Homo sapiens: one gene and its partner. The protein of the gene in region 1 purifies or fractionates together with the protein of each later gene. This does not show direct contact. Each region holds a gene or a part of one and is shown in the gene's direction. Other genes may lie near its edges.

Region 1 (3,803 bases):
TAAAGCAAGACTTTATTTATTTATAAGCAGAGCAAGACTCTGTCTCAAAATAAATAAATAAATAAGAAAAATTAAAAATTAAATAAACTTTATTTTAAAAGCGGCCTTTCCATAATGTGCCTTAATTTTAAAATATCCCTTGGTATACATTACTGCAGGGGAGATGGGGGAGATGTGGGAGGTGGCTGAGGAGTCATTGGGCTGCCTGTGGCTCGCTGCAGAGTTCAAAGCAATGAGTTCAAGTTCTGGCTGTCTTGTATAGTGCTGGCACTACTCTACATTCATTTTTTGGAAAACAGATGCAAGTAAATTCAATAGATAACTTTATCCCTGGTAAGTCCTGTTACCTAAATCTGGTTAAATCATTTATAAAGTGGGAGTAATAGCACCTGCCTTACAAGGTTGGGGTGAGGCTTAAATGATATGGTACTGTGAGTCCCAAAGTACCATGCGTATGGAAAGAAACCTCATTAAATGACCTTTCAGGCTACCGTAGCTAAAGCTGTTGCCAGTATATTTAATTCATAAGAAATAATCACCGTGATTGACATGGTGTTGTGTTTGTTATATTTCACAATCAGAGAGGACCAGGTAAACTTCCGTGGATTCATGCGAACTTTGGCTCATTTCCGCCCCATTGAGGATAATGAAAAGAGCAAAGATGTGAATGGACCCGAACCACTCAACAGCCGAAGCAACAAACTGCACTGTAAGGAGCTAAAGTCTTCTGGCTTAAAATACTTGCTTTTCATTTCTTAAAAGTCATGTATTTACTCACTCATTATTTGAACAAGCATCTACAAGAGCATACTGGTTAAGACCTCAGACTCTGGAGCTAAACTGGCCAAGATTAAATACTAGTCTACCCTTTTTTGGTCGTGTGACTTTGGGCAAGGTACTTAACCTCTTTGGGCTTCAGTTTTCTCTTCTGTAAAATAGGATACTAAGGGGTTCCACATTGGATTGTTGTGAGGATTAAATGAGTTAATAAATGTCAAGTGCTTCACATAGTGCCTGGCATATACTAGGTACTTAATAAGTGTTACCTAGTATCATTATAATTCATTGAGCACCTACCGTGTGCCAGGCACTGTGTTAAGTGCTAGCATGGCAATAGTGAACAAGACCCAGGCCCCACCTTTAAGGAATAATGGCAATCCTCAGCTCATCTTAGAATTTGATAGACACTGGATGTGACTTAAGTAATGGGGGACAGCTGGATACAGTGCAAGATTTAATTTTTATACCCGTGTCTCATGCCTCTTTTCCTTTAATACTTGTTTGCCTTCCCTTCTGCCCTTATTGGTTCATGTACAATATTGCCCAATCCCTTACAACACTTCTCCAGGAAATTGAAATTAAATTTATCTTTTTATTCAGTACAAGTTGAAATTACAGTTGTATTAAAACTGACTGAAGGCTGGGCGCAGTGGCTCATGCCTGTAATCCCAGCACTTTGGGAGGCCAAGGTAGGTAGATCACTTGAGCCCAGGAGTTTGAGACCAGCCTGGGCAACATGGTGAAACATTGTCTCTAATAAAAATACAAAAATTAGCCAGGTGTGGTGGCAGGCACCTGTGCTCCCAGGTACTTGGGAGGCTGAGGTGGGAGAATTGCTTGAGCCTGAGAGGTTGAGGCTGCAATGAACCTTGATGGCACCACTGCACTTCAGCCCAGGTGACAGAAACTCTGTCTCAACAAAGAAAAGAAAACAAAACAAAATCTTCGAAATAGCACTAGTGGATTTGGGCGTTACATGGTGTCTTAGGATACCTTTAGCTGACTCAGCTGGCTTAAACAATAGGGAACTATATTAGCTCACTTTACAAGTCAGATTAGGCCGGCAGGAGGGTTGATTCTGTTTCAAGAACTAGGGATTTTTCTCTTTACTCTGCCATCCTCATAGTCTGTTTTATCCTAAAGTATTATGGTCACATGGCAGCTCTCAGTTGTTAACAGGGCTTTTTTTTTTCTTGTTCACATCTGGCAGTAGAGGAAGAGAGATATATATAGAGAGAGATCGAGACTGAAATTGAGCAACACTCCTCCCAAGCATGGAATGTAAGTCCTTCCCCTCACTTTGATAAGTCAGTTCAGGTCAGGAGAGTGCGAGTGCCGAGGAGATTAGGCTAATGAGATTCCCCTCCTGATGCTGTGATTGGGGTTCTGCTAAGGAAAAAGGTTGGAATGCCACAGAAATGGCAGACTTCAGGATGAGATAGAATAATAACAAAGTGCTATGCAGGTTATGCTTGGTTTTATTTTGTTTTTGCTTAATTTTTTGAGATAGGGTCTCACTCTGTCACCCAGGCTGAGTGCAGTGGCGTGATCACAGCTCACTATGGCCTTGACTTTCCTGGCTCAAGTGATCTTTTTGCCTCAGCCTCTCAAGTTGCTGGGACCACAGGCGTGTGCACTACACCCAGCTAATTTTTTATTTTCTAATTTTTTGTAGGGACAGGGTCTCACTATGTTGCCCAGACTGGTCTCGAAATCTTGGACGCAAGCAGTCATCCCACCTTGGCCTCCCAAAGTGCTGGGATTACAGGCATGAGCCTCCATACCCAGCCTGTTTTTTTCATTACATACTTTAGTCTTGGCTGTTGGATTAACTTTTATAGGAAGCTAAAAATTAATTAGAATTCTGTTGCAGTCTATGTATAGGGATCACATTCATGTAATTAGACCAGTAAAACCGAAGCTATTCTAATGCCAAAGAAAAGACTAGAAGAGTCCGAGAAGTCCTCAATTTCTGTCTAAATGTGTTGCTTCTCTTTGAAGTTCCCACAGGGCTGTATAAGCTGTAGCATGGTGCCTCTTACTGTAGACTGAGAGCAATTGAATGTCATATACCTAGCAATACATTTGCCACTGAGACACATTTACCTTAGAGAAAGGGGATGTGGGCCAGGTGCGGTGGCTCACGCCTGTAATCCCAGCACTTTGGGAGGCTGAGGCAGGCGGATCACCTGAGGTCAGGAGTTCGAGACAAGTCTGGCCAACATAGTGAAACCCCATTTCTACAAAAATACAAAAAAAATTAGCCAGGCATAATGGTGGATGCCTGTAATCCCAGCTACTCAGGAGGCTGAGGCGGGAGAATTGCTTGAACCTGGGAGGTGGAGGCTACAGTGAGCCGAGATCATGCCATTGCACTCCAGCCTGGGTGATAGAGCGAGACTCTGTCTCAAAAAAAAAAAAAAAAAAAAAAAAAAAAAAAAGGAGATGTGTTACTTAGAAATCTGGGTTTACAGGCCAGGCATGATGGCTCACGCCTGTAATCCCAGCACTTTGGGAGGCCAAGGCGGGTGGATCACTTGAGATCAGGGGTTCAAGACCAGCCTGGCCAACATGGTGAAACCCTGTCTGTACTAAAAATACAAAAAATTAGCTGGGCGTGGTGGCGGGCGCCTGTAATCTCAGGTACTCGGGAGGCTGAGACAGGAGAATACTTTGAACCTGGGGGGCAGAGGTTGCAGTTAGCCGAGATTGCACCATTACTCTCCAGCCTGGGCAACAGAGCAAAACTCCATCTCAAAAAAAAAAAAAAGAAATGTGGGTTTACAGAGGAGTGGAACCAAATTTTATTATGGGTTATACTTTGCATAGAATACTGTCTTCAGGAACTCTGAGAACACACTTTGTTCTATTTCTTTTCTAAGCCACGGTGAGAGAATTTTAATCACGATCAGCAAGGCTGAACTATGCCCATGTAGGCACAGGCCCAAGCACACATAGTGCCACTCTGCTCTTCTGTTTGTCTCCTGGAAGTGGTACCTTATTGCTTTCCTCTTTGGATTGGT
Region 2 (4,363 bases), on another chromosome or scaffold:
CCTGGGTGCACAGAGCCTCCAGCTGAAGGTGCTGTGAAGCCCCACTCCTCCAGGAAGTCCACCTGGGACCCCAGCCCACACCCCCGCATCCCCCAGCTCCCGGCAGCGGCACTCCTGTCTGCAGGGTGCACCCACCTCATCTGCCCTGGAAGATGAAAACCCCGCAGCCGTCAGCAGCCACCTCTCAGCCTCTCAGAGGCACAGCAGTGCAGCTCTCAGACCTCCCGGCTGCGGGGTGTGCAGTTCCGGCTCCAAGCGTGGAAAGAGGTCAAGCCAGGCCCTCCAAGCTGATTCCAGATGAAGCCCATATGGATCTGGAAGGAGACTGGGCTGGAAAATGCTCTCCTGGGTTTCGCTGTAAGATGCCTACAGGCCTAAGGCAAAAGGATGTGTCTCCACTTTCAAGAAAAGCTGGGACCGCCTGGGCAGGGGCTGCTGAGCCCAGGCAGCGAGACCCCACGTCCTTCAGGACCGCAGTTCCCCATTCATTTGAAGAGCAGTTTCTGTATTTGTCATTCTCTCAGTACAGTTTGGGGGGTGGTTACAATGTTCAGGGAAATGTTTTAACAGCTCAACTCTGCATCTGAAAAAAGAGGGGCCGTGCTCCCCTGCTGACCCGTTAGAGCGCAGGGCGGCCAGCACTCCCGCAACTGCAGCAAACCCAAGAGTCCCTATGAGGAGGGACCCCAGGAAACTGCTTTTCAATCTCCATCTGCTCCCTGAGGTGGGACGCCGGGTGGGGGCCGGGCCAGGTGACTGCTGCCCTTGTCCCAGCTGCACCTTGCCCTGCCACGCTGGCCGTGCTGCCAAGCGGATGTGAACGCCGCCACCTGACACCCACCTCGCCTGCCCCCGGAGCGTCCCTGGTGACAAGGCTACTTCTGGCACCCAGGGTGGGGCAACCCAGCCCCGCCCAGACACACGCCCCAGTTGGCCTGCGCGCCCCCACGAGTCTCCCCGCAGGGGACCGAGAACACCCTAAGAGCCAGGCTTTCTGCCAGGTGGCCACTGGTCACTCGGGGGCGGTTCCGGCGGCCCTTTGCGTGGCCACCGGCCTGGCACGGGCGCATCCCCGCTGGTTTTACGCCCTTGGGGAGCTGTGGTTCTGCGCGCGGGAGCCTGTGGCTGCCCCGGCAGCGGGGGGAGGGGGCACCGGGCGGGGCAGGAGGCCCAGACCATGGGGGGCAGCGCCAGAGCCCGAGCCACCGGCAAGCCATGATGGGGGGGTCCCCTGGGACCGGGAGGGTGGGAGCAGAGCGCCAGAGCCTCGGTAACCTGGCAGAAGGCTGTGGGGAGGGAGCGTGGAGGGGAGGTCCGGGCCGGGTGACCCAGGGCGGGAAGGGGGGGCCGTGTCGGGGCGGGGTTGGGGACAGTGGCGGGGCGGGGCCTGGTGAGGGGACCGTGTCGGGGCGTTGTTGGGGACAGTGTCGGGGCGGGGCGCCGCACCTAGCCCTTCCCTGCCGCGCGCTCCTCCCCCACGCCGCGCCCCGCCCCGCCCAGCCCCGCCGCCCTCGCAATAAGGGGCCTGAGCGCGCGGGGGAGAAGCGGGAGCGGGAGCGGGAGCGAGCTGGCGGCGCCGTCGGGCGCCGGGCCGGGCCATGGAGCTGTGGCCGTGTCTGGCCGCGGCGCTGCTGTTGCTGCTGCTGCTGGTGCAGCTGAGCCGCGCGGCCGAGTTCTACGCCAAGGTCGCCCTGTACTGCGCGCTGTGCTTCACGGTGTCCGCCGTGGCCTCGCTCGTCTGCCTGCTGCGCCACGGCGGCCGGACGGTGGAGAACATGAGGCAAGGCCGGGGGCCGCCGGGAGGGGCCGGGGAACCGCCGCGCCGCTTCCGCTTCCCTAACTTTCTTCTGGGCTTCCCTCCTTCCTGCCCCGCCCGTCCCGCCCCGCTCCGGGGCTCCGGGGAGAGCGCGCCTGGGCCGGCGGCAGGCACAGGAGGGGGTCCCGGAGTCAGGGGGTCCCGGAGTCACGGGGTCAAGGAGCCGGCGTCACAGTGCCCAGCACCCCACCCCCCGCCCTGGCCCCGGGCGTCTACACCGGTTTCGGCCTCCGCCGCGTCCCTGCAGCCCGGCGTGGGGTTCCGGGGGTGGAGCAGCTTTCGGAGAGAAAGGGGGCCGGTCCGCGCTGGGAGAGGCTCAGCCCTGCTTCCTGAGCGGGGAAACCGAGGCCGGGGCGGCGGGGACTTGCCCCAGGGCTATTGATCAGGGCGCACGACGGCGTGGGGGCACCCCTCGGCCTCCCTCCGACCCCCTCCTGACTGTCCGCCCGGTGATGGGCGCACCTGTGGGGCGGGTTCCCCTTTCTCTCCCTTTCCTCTTCGCAGGGAGGTGGGGGACCCGGAGGGGACCTGCTTCCGTGCTGGGGAGCGCGCCCCTGGCCTACAGCTCCGGGGGCCCAGCTTCCAAGCGAAGGGAAGGAAGAGTTAGGACTAGGGTTCGGCGGGGCTGAAATTTTCCCCTGGACGCCTTCCAGAAGGTGGGAGCTTGGTTTTGCCAGGCTGGGGTTGGGGGCCAGAGGTCAGACTGGGCTGCCAAAGACGGCGGGGGCTGCCTGCTCCTGGGCGGGGTGGCTGCTGGAGAAGGCTCTTGCCTGCCCCCTCTCCCTGTTAGCCGTCCCCAGGCTGTTGCTACATTTCTCCCTGCCCTGTTTGGACTGCCCAGCCAGTGGCTTTTGCAATGGCCTGGGGTGGGGGCATTGTGGCCCCAGAGGCCCCCTTCCCCGTGGTTCCAGGGGCAGTGGGTGAGGGTTTGCTAGCTCCCTGCACTCGCTGTCCTTGCCAGCCCTGGGAGGGCACTGAGGCTGCTGGAACGGGCCTACAGTCATGGCTTCCAACGGAGCCCCAGAAGCTCCAGGAATATGAAGGAGGACCCTGGGCCTGATGGTGAGCATGGAGAGTCCGAGAAGGGCCTGCTGGCTGCTCAGCCAGACGTGTGTGACCAGTGGTGATGTGGGCCAGGTGGCCCAGGCCGGGGTCCCGGGGAGCGCACACTCCAGGGCTGGCCCAGGTGGTGACTGGCGCTGACGTCCCCAGTGGAGCACCCTTCAGCGAGGAAGGCAGTTTGCAGAAACAGGGAGTTCCTGGGGGCTGGGCTCTGGGCACCTGTGCTGGAATCTGTGAAGGCCTCACCTGTGGTTCTGGCCCTGGGATCCCCTGTAGGCAGGGGTCTCTGTGAGGGGCCCCCCTCAGCCCCTGGGGTGCTTCAGAGTAGGGGCGAGGGTGCGGCTTTCCCAGCTGAGGAGGGGCCAGTCTGTGGGTTCCTTGGGGTGCCCCCCACCCCGAGGAAATGGCTTGTGTGGTTCTGATGCCTGCAGGGCATCCTGTGCTGGGCGTGTCCTGGGGTGTGGACAGGGGACGGGGTCCTGTTCTTTTGGCAGAAATGATGGGGCACCTGACTTAGGAGACCCTGGAGCAGACCCCACTACTGAGCCAGGCCACAGGCCACGGGCCTCTTCATCGGCGGCCTCCTCGTGTGAGAAAGCCTGGCTTGTTCTGCAGGGGCCTCTGCCTGGACTTCCTAGCTGTTTTCCAGGGACCAAATCACAGTTCACCTGCTGCCCTTTCTATGGACCTGGCAGGCTGGGTTGGCTGGCACTGGCCCTGCTGCCCCACTGGGCCCTGTCCCCATCTCAGCTTGGAGATTCTGGCTAACCTGGGTGTCCTCGGGACCTGGGGCCTCTGATGGTGCTTGGATGGGACCCTCCTGCCGCCCTCACCTCTCCAGGGCAGCACCCAGGCTCAGGCCTGTGGAGTAGTGGCTTCCGGGACACTGGCTACTAACAGCAGGTGCTTTGTTCCTGCTTTGGTCCCTGAAGAGAAGGGAGGGCCAGAGGGCAGGGCAGTCTGGAGGAGAGGCCTGGGGCTCCATGGCTACCTTCCCCCACACCTCTGCACGTGCTCCCCAGGCCCCAGGGTCCCTGATGACTTCCAAGACTCCCAGCAATGGCTAAGAGTGGGGCTGTTGCGAACGTGCGTTCCCTCCGTGGGGGCCGTCGGGAGGGGTGAGAAAGGCAGATGAAGAGCAGGCGCTTTGTCACTCCAGGGAAGGGACCCGGGGGGCTGGAAGGGAAGGAGGGGATACTCGGCCTCTGTTCCTGCTGTACGCCACGGGTGCCTCCAGCCTCAGGAACAGGGATTCGCGTGTGCTCTGTGTTACAAATAAGGACACTGAGGCTGAGATAAGCAACTTGAAACTGGGGCAGGGTCCCCAAGCCAGGATGGGGTGGAACTGGGGTTCGAACCCACTGACAGTGACTCCAGAGTACCTGCTTTTCCCTTTCCCCTTGTTCCCAGCCCAGCGCTTGGGGCTGGTGAGGCAGCCCTGCGGCAGGCCTGAGCTCTGGGAGGGGCGCTCCATCTTGCCCCTGA

Evidence for each region.
Region 2: the proteins of CHP1 (region 1) and AGPAT2 purify together in Homo sapiens (co-immunoprecipitation; one large-scale study listed by IntAct). This does not show direct contact.

What each region holds. Positions count from the first base shown.
Region 1 is NC_000015.10:41,262,175-41,265,977, forward strand, and holds part of CHP1 (calcineurin B homologous protein 1), read left to right. Parts: intron 1-581; coding exon 582-709; intron 710-1,990; coding exon of another isoform or gene 1,991-2,013; exon of another isoform or gene 2,014-3,803. UniProt on the Homo sapiens protein: Calcium-binding protein involved in different processes such as regulation of vesicular trafficking, plasma membrane Na(+)/H(+) exchanger and gene transcription. Involved in the constitutive exocytic membrane traffic.
Region 2 is NC_000009.12:136,684,593-136,688,955, reverse strand, and holds the start of AGPAT2 (1-acyl-sn-glycerol-3-phosphate acyltransferase beta), read left to right. Parts: upstream 1-1,498; 5' UTR 1,499-1,598; coding exon 1,599-1,780; intron 1,781-2,759; exon of another isoform or gene 2,760-2,878; intron 2,879-4,363. UniProt on the Homo sapiens protein: Converts 1-acyl-sn-glycerol-3-phosphate (lysophosphatidic acid or LPA) into 1,2-diacyl-sn-glycerol-3-phosphate (phosphatidic acid or PA) by incorporating an acyl moiety at the sn-2 position of the glycerol backbone.